2 separate regions of the Homo sapiens genome follow, and region 1 is linked to region 2. Evidence: fine-mapped expression QTL. A gene starts in region 2. The other region holds a variant in brackets. All regions are shown on one strand. Distances are from middle to middle.

Evidence for each region. PIP is the estimated chance that this variant, and not a neighbour inherited with it, causes the effect. A credible set is the group of variants that fine-mapping cannot tell apart.
Region 1: its variant is the best candidate, but not a certain one, in a credible set for the expression of MDH1 in lung (TOPMed, PIP 0.61).

The regions. Positions count from the first base shown.
Region 1 is chr2:63,434,276-63,439,660 of GRCh38, forward strand. WDPCP (WD repeat containing planar cell polarity effector) reads right to left here. Exons shown (of 18, transcript NM_015910.7): 8 at 3,146-3,279. Among named protein-coding and RNA genes, the nearest start is that of WDPCP, 150 kb to the right of the region's middle. The variant C/T (reference allele first, on the strand shown) is at 2,494.
Region 2 is chr2:63,586,862-63,592,251 of GRCh38, forward strand. MDH1 (malate dehydrogenase 1) reads left to right here and starts at 2,102. Exons shown (of 9, transcript NM_005917.4): 1 at 2,102-2,185. The coding sequence starts at 2,183. It overlaps WDPCP (WD repeat containing planar cell polarity effector), which reads right to left and starts at 1,616. Exons shown (of 18, transcript NM_015910.7): 1 at 1,336-1,616. The coding sequence starts at 1,410. RefSeq lists enhancers at 781-1,301, 1,813-2,132.

The DNA.
Region 1 (5,385 bases), 150 kb before region 2:
AATGACAAGTTCAGTACTGCTGACCAAGAGAGTCTCACTACTGTTTAAGACATAACGTGTTAACAATGACTGACAACAAAAAAAGGAAAAACAACTTGAGGCAAATATCTCTTTAAAGAATATATGCGACGTATACACATATATTCTGCATAAAAGGGATAAGCCACAGCATCATGCATAAAAGTTTATGCAGCTTCTGAGAATTATGCTTCTCTTTCTTAGGCAGGATTTGTAGAATTTATTATTCAAACTATGTTATTTTGGAACATGGTTATTTGAAAACATAAGCACGGCACCATCTGTGTGACACATGCCAAGGAAATATAGATTGCACCGTATTTCTGCTTAAGGAATTAATGGAAGGTTGATAGCTTGGAAGAAAAAAAAAACTATCTTGCCATTGCTGGTCAGCAATAATCGAACCACTTTCTGGGGATTAAGCGCATGGCTAAGCCTACTGGACCAGACACTAGCAAAGGGCAGGGGGTCTTCTTATCAGAGAAATGCTTCTGGAGCCAGTCTCACTACATGACAGATTGCTTTCATATTCCTGTCTGCAAGGCAACAAAGGATGGCAGTAATGCGATAATGCCAGAGTGCAACGGGTGTTAAGAACCCGTTGCATTTATGTATTGTATTTAGTAAATAATCAGGCTCATCCAAATTGTGATCTCACCACTCAACCAAGGCCATTAAAACCAAGGTTAATGCTTTAATAATCCTCTGCTATTTTTTTTCAATATGGTCAAAAGGAACCCTTTTCTATTTGCATGGCCATAATATTATTGACCTCTTCATCCTCTGAATGCACATCAAAAGGAACTGAAATCAAAGTAATTACCAGTGTTGTTCTCTCATGGTAAACATTTAACTCCTCACAGTGTCCCTTCACTGTTAAATAAATTGAATTGGATTTTTTTCAGATGTAGACAGGAAAACTTGTTAAAGGTCAATAGTTTAAGGATGTTTACTCTGCAATTTTCTTTGCCAAAATTATGTCAATCTGAAAGAATTAAACTATGGTACAGCTGTAAAGAAAAGCAAAAGTACAATACTCTATACCACTTCCTTGTTTTAAAATCCAAATGGGCAATGACAGACAACACAGATGTACTTTATGCTATTAAGTGTAATTTCTTATATTTAAGCTCTCAATATCATTAAGTCTTCTTATTTGAGAGAAATACCACGATGAAATTGCTAAGTACTTAAAAATACACATACATTATTTCAATGTCTGATTTGCTGCATAAGTGTGTTACCTATGAATTTCTAGATGAGGAAATTGAGTCACAATGAGTGACTGACATTTTCAGTTGTCACATAATGCAAATCACTTACGTTATGAAATGTTAGGAAATTTCATGTTTCCTATGAGTTTAATATTATCAGTATTCTGTCATGATGACCAAGAGGGAATGTAAAATAAACAAATTTCTTAAAATATCCTTCCAATGGACAAATAGCAGATTTGACTAAGTATTAAAAATATACATTTTAAATATTAAACCAGGAAATGAAATTAATGAGTTTTCCGAAGGGAAACAGATTACTTCTCTAATGTATAGGAATGACATGGAGTGCCAATGTTCCTATTTTCCTAAATCCAAAGGCATATTCGAATAAGCAAGTAAGTAATTCCCTTACTTAAGGTTTAAGGACCCAAACGCTAGATGTCTTTTCCTCATCTTTTCATAAGAAAAGATGACATCTTGACAGTTTCTCTCTGTTCTCAGGTAGCTACTACTCTTCAGTTGAGAAGATTTTATCAAGCTATCACACCTAAGATAAAGAAACTACTCATCCAGAATTTTATATATACTTACTTTAAATGGTTTGAGTTAATGCACACTGGTGCATTTTAAAGACCGATCAATTTTAGTAAATAAACAGTATTTCAAGTAAATCTGAAGTTAGCCATTCTAGAACTAACATCCCTTTAAGAATGCTAATACCATTTTTGTTTTGGCTAACCAAATATAATAAGTAGCACTAATTTCCAGTTTTAAAAAATCTATATTAAGGTTTTATAGAAGTTTCACAAAGCTGGCAAACGAAACTAGATGGTAGTTTATCACCACAATGAAAAACTCATTTATTTTATTCCACATTAAAAATCTTTTTTTAAGAATAAATGTTCCTACTAAATAAAACTAAATCCTCCCATGCTACCACCACCTCATTCATAAGTAATAATCCCAAAGGGCAAAAGGTTAGGTTAAATACTACTTTGCCAAAAACACACACACATTTCAAGCTACAGAGCTAGCTTCTCAAACTCTTTGCTCTTGCTACAGATGCTCTAGGTATGGCATAAGTGTGCATCTTTTTTAAGGAAGCTGTATATCAGCTCTGTTCCCAGTGAACAGTGAACTGTCTCAAATCCACATCATAGAGGTTGGATCAATCTTGCAAACACAAGTCACTGTTGAAAAGAGGCCTTGAACTGAAACAGCCTGGAAAATGTATTACTCATCCTAGCAGAGAATATGC[C/T]TTCCCAGCAGTTAAAATGTAATGTGGCAAAACTCAAATTAAACACATCACTTAAAATAAAAATTCTGCCTTAATAGATGTAAAGCTCCTGATACAGGAAGGAAACAAATTACCTGGAATTAGTGAAGGGTGAGATACTAACACATGAAGATTTCTTTTTGCATTTTGTCCAGTTATAGCTGGAGGGGGAGGGTTCTTCCCCCTCCTTGTTTATTACACTTTTCTATTAACCTTTCAAAGTGCCTTCATCTTTCTTTTCTTGTGAAGTGGAAAGTATCCTACCCTAGAAAGCTATCCTACCCTAGAAAGATGATATGGGGTCTTAGGGGAAAATGAGAATGGTATATATACTACCACTGGCACGAAAACCATTTTCAAAAGTGTAACTTGCCTCTATTATCTGTCTTTGATGTCTATAAATACTATATAAATTGCTCCAAACGTGCCATTGTTAGACAACCCCCCATAGTGAGAGTATAAAAGAAAACTTAGGATGGCCACTGTTTACAGTTAATTAAGCTTAATCCTGTAATATTTCCAGTTTTTCTGAAATCCAGAAATGTTGAAGAATAATGAGCAGAATACCAACTTATGTGATACTCTCATATACCTTAATAATTAATAATATGACTATATAAATCAAAATCTCTACCTTATAATCCAAGGCTGAGAGTTTTTCCAGTCTTTTGTTTACATCAGAAGACTCCATCTTCTTGGTAAACTGAATAAAACATAGTTTGTTTTGTGCCAAAAATGATAAGATGATAAAACTGTCTGTGAGAAGAGCTAAAAAACATAATTAGATATTACCAAGTTAGAATAAAATAATGAATAGATTTTTCCACTGATATGTTACAAAAAGCTATTTTCAAACATACATATTAACTGAAATCACTAAAGTCTCTTGAATATCATTATAGCATTTTATAAAAATATTAAAGATATTAGGAATAAACAATAATTGTCAATCTAATCATATGTGATTTTTTTTCCTGTGACTATTTCAATATACACTGATATTTGGGGACCACCAATGGATGAGATGTATTTAGAAACAGGGCTATAAAGGTATTTTTAAAAAACTATTTCGCACCTGAATGTAGAGACGAAAACATTCCATTTTATTTGTGCTAAGAGTTTAATCCTATGTTTACATGATAGAAACCATCCGAGGATAAAGTGGATTTATTAGGGGATACTGATCAGTGTTCTCTACCAGTCTATTTATTTAAAAAATTTTCATCAGTGAATCTTCTTTTAGGGGTATACAAGCTGGATGAAATAAAGCATATTATGACCAATATGTACATTACATAAATTAATATCTAATAATGAAAATTAGCACAATATTTCTACAGCTTTGTCACCAAAGCACACAAGTAGGTAAATAACTAATATTTGTGGATTATATAAAGGGCTATTAATGTTACATAAAATTATTGATAAAAACATGTTACAGGAATTTGAGAAATGTTTTGCATTGTTCCTAGCATAAAGAAATTATTAAATGTTTTATACATTTTCCTTTACTTTCACACCCCTGACCATACAAACAGTGACCAACAGTGGATCTACACAATTACAAGAGAATCTGGAGAACTGCCAAGAAATCACATTGTTACCATGTTCCCATGAGAGTGTATTATTTTGGGTACAAATAAAAGAAATACATGAAAAAGGATAACTCAGAGACACGAATTGTGCTGAAAGTTTCCTTTTAATTCTCATTGAGGAGCATCAATATAACAAAATCATCACAGCCAGTATTTTATTTGCAGTACCAATGAAGGGGTCAATTATTAGACATATGAAAATGGAACCTCTTCTACAGGGAAGCTTCCTCAGCACCTTACTCCTGTAAGGAAGGGAAAATGGCATGCTTACAATCCTACCCCCAGCTTATTACTATCAGTAATGTTGCTAATTATGGCCATCCTGCAGAGTTCTTTTCTTCAAGATGATGTGATTGTGTCTGATTTATTCAGAGGTAGCTAGTGAGAGAACACAGCAGACGGAAGATTTCTTTATTCTCACCTCTGTCCTTTCCACTAGGACATACTTCCTTTGATTACTAAATTTAAGATACTGACCATTTTCAATCTTTCATGATAATACAATGTTTCTCAACCTTTTTACCTTGAATAAAAGAATATAATCTTTAAAAATTCAGGAGTCAGAACAGTATAGTGAAAGGAAAATGGGCTTCACAGCCCGAACCTGTATTCAAATCTTAGCTCAGTCACTTTCTAGCTATATGACTCTGGACATGTTCCTTAGTAGCTCAGCTTCGTTTCCTTATGTGTAAAAATGGAAATAACTATACCTTATACAATTGTTTTCTTGTATTAAATAGGTAGGTTAGGAACCCAGCATATAGAGCCTTTTGGTTCAATAAATGTCAGTATCCTTCCTATTCAATAACTGGCTTAATATCTTTTTCTTATGTGCTTTGTACCAATTACAGACTGATTGAGATGTCACTTAATAGGACCTGACTGTCCAGTATATTAGGCATTGGTCTTTACTATTTAGAAAATATAGCCCAAAATCTCTCTAAGACTTTAGGAACAAAGAATCTTCCTATGAGAGCCAAAGCATCAATTGTGTACTGGTGGTTGTGTTGATATATTTGTGTTATTTATTCAAAATTCATTTGGAAATAAAATATATATTTGAAGTGCCAGTTATAGAGAAATAATTTTGAAAGAATGAAAACAAAACCCTATTTTGAAAAAATGTTCACTTCTTTTAAGGAAAAAGTAAAAAACAACTCAGAATATAAGCTTAACAGTTGACAAGAAAAAAACTTTGATATTAAATATTAGTCGAAACTTGTATTGGTCCCAGGGGGTGTAAGTACGCTATTACAAGCAATTACTTGTTGTGTTTGCA
Region 2 (5,390 bases):
GAGGACAAAAATCATGAGATTGTTTTGTTATACTTTAAGTTCTAGGGTACATGTGCACAACGTGCAAGTTTGTTACATATGTACGTATACATGCCATGTTGGTGTACTGCACCCATTAACTCGTCATTTACATTAGGTAAAATCATGATATTTTTAAGGACAACAACATGGAAAAATCTTTCTGTTAGCAGCTAGTAGAAGAATTCATTTAGGAGGATAATGGAAGAAATTTTTCGTAACTGCTCAGAGTAAAAAGTAAAACTCAGAGAACCTAGGTTTGAGAATAATGCACACCTACTAATTCAGGACTAGACACATAAATTTGAGAGTTTTTGACATTAAAAGTAGCATTTGAAGTGATGCAACTTATGAATTAGCTCACTGAGGGATTTAGTATAGACAGAGAATACAGGCACCCCAATGTTAAGAGATCACAACTAAAAAAAATTTAGAAACTCCGCAGAACTGAGAACCAGTAACAAAAGAGGAAAACCAGGAAAGTATGTTGTCTGAGAGCCAAATGAATAAAGAGATACAAGGAGAGTCATTCAGGTATGATATTAATAAATGCTAAAAGTAAAGCATTACATTTCTTTCCAAAAATAGCAAATCCTCCAAACTGAAATAGAGAAAAATTGAAAGATATTACTTGGCATTCATTTATCAGTGACAGAGAAAAAACGGAAGTTCTAACAATGTTATCTAATAGAGATGTTTTATTCATTTTCATTACGTATATGCTGTGTATGCTACTCCCGAGCATCATATCTTCCTTTTAACATCCACAAGAAACAAGCTTTCAAAAAGCACAGCAATTCTCTTGGCAGCATTAATTTTAAAGAGAACCTCTTAAGTTGTTTTACCAGCTGAGACTGACTGACTAAACAACCAGTGTCTCCCCTTCAGTCGCCAGTCTTTCCTTAGAAATGCCTGTTTGGCATAACTTTAAGACTCAAGATGGTTTAAGGCGCATCCTGTTTCTTCCAAAAGGGAATGGACAAAACTCAACATTCACGGAGGGCTTAGAGCAAATTAGAACCGTATACTGTGACCTCCTGGAAGGGAGAGGCTCACCTCCTACAAAGTAAATGCTCAATAAATATTTTTGATATAACTCTGGAAGAGCTCCATTTGGGGTCGGGGGTGCACCTACTCCAGGGCACCACCCCCTCCAAAATAGCTGCATTCCCACAGCCCTCATACTCCGCTCAGAAAAGGGACCGGCGAGCTTGCAGGCATCCGCACAGCGGATAAAAGCAAAGCGGGACGGCGCACCAACCGCATTCCGGATCCTAAGGTTAAAAGAAAACCCCTTGCCCTCGGGCCAGGGCTCACCTGTCTCGGGAGTGGGGAAGAAGCGCGACTCCCGGCCGCTTTGGAGTAGGCGTCCCAGCAAAACTCTCGCCTCATCACCAGACACTACCCCGGGCAGAAGGTTCCTAGGCTAGGTCCTCGGACCCGAGAGGGAGCGACACGCTCGCTTGGTCTCTTGGGTCTCCAGGACGCCGCCGCCGCCGCCACAGTTTCCTCAGGTGCTACAAAGCAGCCAGGGTGTGCGTGCGCTCCCGCCTCGTCGCTTAGCAACCTGAGAAGCTGTCCGGTCGTCCCAACTTATCAATTCCCCCGCCCCTCCAGAGTGTCAATCGTTTTTTAAAAGATTTTGTTTCCGGGTCGATCCAGCTTTACGCAGCGGAAGGTCTCTTTACCTCCCACGTTTACCCTCATGGGAGGATGCAGTCTCAGTCACGCGCGTGGGGGTGATGTCGCTAAGGGGTGATTCTCCCCTCCCTAGAGTTACACACGCTATCTCTCCCGCCAATTGCCGGGCTCCATCAGGCAGGTCCTTTCCTCCTGAGCCCAAACCATCCGTTTGTTGTCGTCCTCCAATCACAGGGGCTCATCCTCAGGGACTACTTTGCAATCGGCGCAGAGCGCAGTGAGAAGAGCTTGAAAAAAACCTCTGGTATCGGGAAGTGTAGTTCAACACTTGAAGGAAATGCTTTGGAGATTGCGCCACAACCAGGGCAGCGTAAACTACAGTTCCCAGAGAGCGCCGCGTCGGGAGCGGAGCCTTTTCTCGCTAACACCGCTCGCCCTCTCCGAGTCAGTTCCGCGGTAGAGGTGACCTGACTCTCTGAGGCTCATTTTGCAGTTGTTGAAATTGTCCCCGCAGTTTTCAATCATGGTGAGTGTGGGCCCCGGGTTCCTGCCCACCTCTGGCCCTCGCGCCCTTGAGTGGGGTTTCTTGCACTTTAGGGACTTTTGGGAGGCAGCTGTGCAAGGCACTGTCCTTCGCGCCCTTTGGCAAGCTCGGACTCATCTTCTGGGGATTGCCGCAGTGACCCAGTAATGGGAAGGGATTGATTTCCACCTTGCGGGGTATGGGGCGCTCTTAGGAGGACTCTGGAGAAGTAGTTGTCCTGGGAGAGGAGCGATCTTAATCCTGCTGCATGACGGGAGGACAAAATGCGACGCTGCAGCTATTTTCCAAAGGACGTTACGGTGTTTGATAAGGACGATAAGGTTTGCGATGGGAGGGAAAGGTTGGGTCCTAACCCCTTTTTCTCCTCATTTGCCCACAGTGTTTATAACGGCTTTTGTCACAGGGACCTTGAAAGCAAAAAGCTGGAAAGGTAGTATTTACCAGGTGCTCCAGATTACGATCTGCGTTTGCAGCAGACGTGTTTCCGCCATATCTAATTTCTCAAAATGTTATTTGGAACCCGTTCATTGACCTTTTTTGTAATGCCAGGATATATTGAAGTGACAGCATCACTAACTAAATAACTACTGCAAATATTCTTTATTGAACTGTATATTGTGAATTCCAGAAGCACCTCTCTTAAATGTAACAGAGTAACCATTTTGTCATGGAAGACCTGGGTAACCTGCATCTCCATCGCTTGTCTCTGCTGAAAGAGAGGGGGAGGGGGAGAGTTGGTGAAGGAACTCTGGCGTAGGAATAATCTGCGTACTGCTTGAAGGTGACATTTGTCATCAAACTCAGAGAAATCGCTTCATACTATCAATACAATGGCTTGTATTTATAGTTGCGACTGTTTTTCCTACTTTATCTGCAAAATACTAAAACGGCTGGAGAATGTGGAGAAATGTTTGAATGAATTGGAAATTTCCCAGAACCTGAAAAGACACGTTTTCAAGGCAAGGGCATTACTCTCTCTGCCTGTCTAACGGGGCCAGTGGAGACAGCTACTAATTTCCAGTAGGTGTTAAACCTAGGTTTCCTAAATGTTTTGTCACATAATTAGTCATTTAAATTATGGTTTCGGTAGTTTCTGTCCTAATAACCTTAGCTAGAAAGCAGAGGTACTTATTATCTGATAACCTTGGACTTTTTGCTTTTAGAACTGAATGGGATCTTTTAAAGGTCATCTTGACGAATCTCCCCACTTCAGATCTTAAAATGGAGTTTATCGAGACCCAAAGAGAATGTGATTTGCTCCAAGAGTCTCACACTCTTGCCATTTTTCTATATTGTGTCTTACACTTACCAAGTCTTTCTGAATTTTTATTTTTATAGGGACCACCGCAGTGAGGTCTCGCAGCGGGGGAGAGACAGTGTACTCAACTCCCTGAAAACTTATTTTTACTAGCTGAGATTCCGGATGAAGTTACCAGTTCATACTGCATATACAAACTCAAATATGTTATCAGCATGTAGATTACTTGATAGCTTTATTCCTTGCCATTCAAAATACTGGAATTGTAGAATTAAAAGGGAATTTGGAGATTATATTATCTACTCTTATAATGTAGTCTGGTGAGGTCAGATAATTTTCCCAAGGTCACAGAGATTTTGGGCCCCAGATTCTTAGCTAGTTTCCCTAGCAAGGCCCCACCGTTGGAAGGTCACTGGGGTGCCAGATAACACAGAGACAGAACATGAGGAAGAATTTGTCTGGCAGTTTGCTGGAACTGACAGCAAACTCACACATGACTCAATTTCCCTGCCCCCTCAGGAGGGTGTGTGAATGGACAGAGTTAGAAAAGAGCCTTCTTCTGTAAGCTCATTCAAAGCGGAGGATTCTTTGCTTGTTGTCTGTAGGGAGTGACAGCAAAATAAACTGTATGAAGGAATCTAAATGGTACTGCTTAGTTTTTTGTGTTATAGAAATACATGTAATTTAGAAATATATATAAATTTGAAAGTGAAAAAGAAATATGTGGCTCTGTCTGTGGAATAACAGACACTTAAATTCAATCTTTATAGCTGAGAAGTTAGCACAGAGCCTGCATCTGCAGGAAAGTCATTGGTGCCCTGCTAAGAGCAAAGACGTTCCTTTTTTGGACCTTGGCACACTGCCCAGATATCTGAGCAAAGAATAGTAACCTATGTTCACACTATAACATTGTGAAAGTCAGCAGGACTCTCCCACCCTCCTGCTTTTCAACTGCAATGTTGCAGAAGAGCAGAAAGAACCATACATGGACTTTTCTTTCTCTGTTTCATCTTCAGACATTCAAACACTAAGCCTCATACTACCATTAATAAGATGGAATTACCTACCTGGGAAAGTAATTTCCCCAAAGACACAGAAGAAAACTGCTGAGGTGGAATTAACTGTTCATTAGGTGGCCACAACCCCTTCACTAAGGACTGTGATACTGTGAACATGTTTTTAAGTAGCTACTAAAATTGACTGCATTATTCTAACCATATAGGTGACCTTATGGGAAGTTAAACTTAATAGATAGTGATCTTCACTCTCTTCAGCCCCCCTTTTCTTATCCTAGTTTGCTGTTCATTGAAGTAGTATCTGTTCATACTTTATACCCTAACCTTCCTTCATTCAACAAATACTTTTTGTGGAAATGCAAATCCATATCAAAGACAGACTGTTCTCAAGAGCGCTTCATGGCCTAATACAGAGCAACAGAAATGTAAATAGAAAACCACAGGCTATTAAAGTCTTTAGAGGAAAATTCTGTGATGATATTTATAAATACTCACTACGTACTGTTCTTAGTGCTTTGTGTGTTAACTCTTTTAATCCTTAAAACTACTCTGTTTGTTAGGTAATTGCTATTATTATCTCCATTTTACTATGGGGAAATAATACAGAAAGGTTAAGTAACTTGTCCTAGAGCATGCAGTTAATGAGTTGTGGAGCCAGGACTTGAACACAGAAAGTCTGGCTCCAGAGTCCATCTCTTTAATTACTACTCTCTACTGCTTCTCTAGCCCCCTGTTTTAGAAAATTGGTGTATCCTTTTTGTTTCCTTCACGTGATTCACCAATGGATTCCCTGGCCTAAAATAGTACCAAGTACATGATAGGAACTTAATGATGTTTTGTTTAATGAATGAATTAAATGAGAAAACAGTTCATCAGTGGATTTATAAGGTAATATCATTAGTACTAATGACAA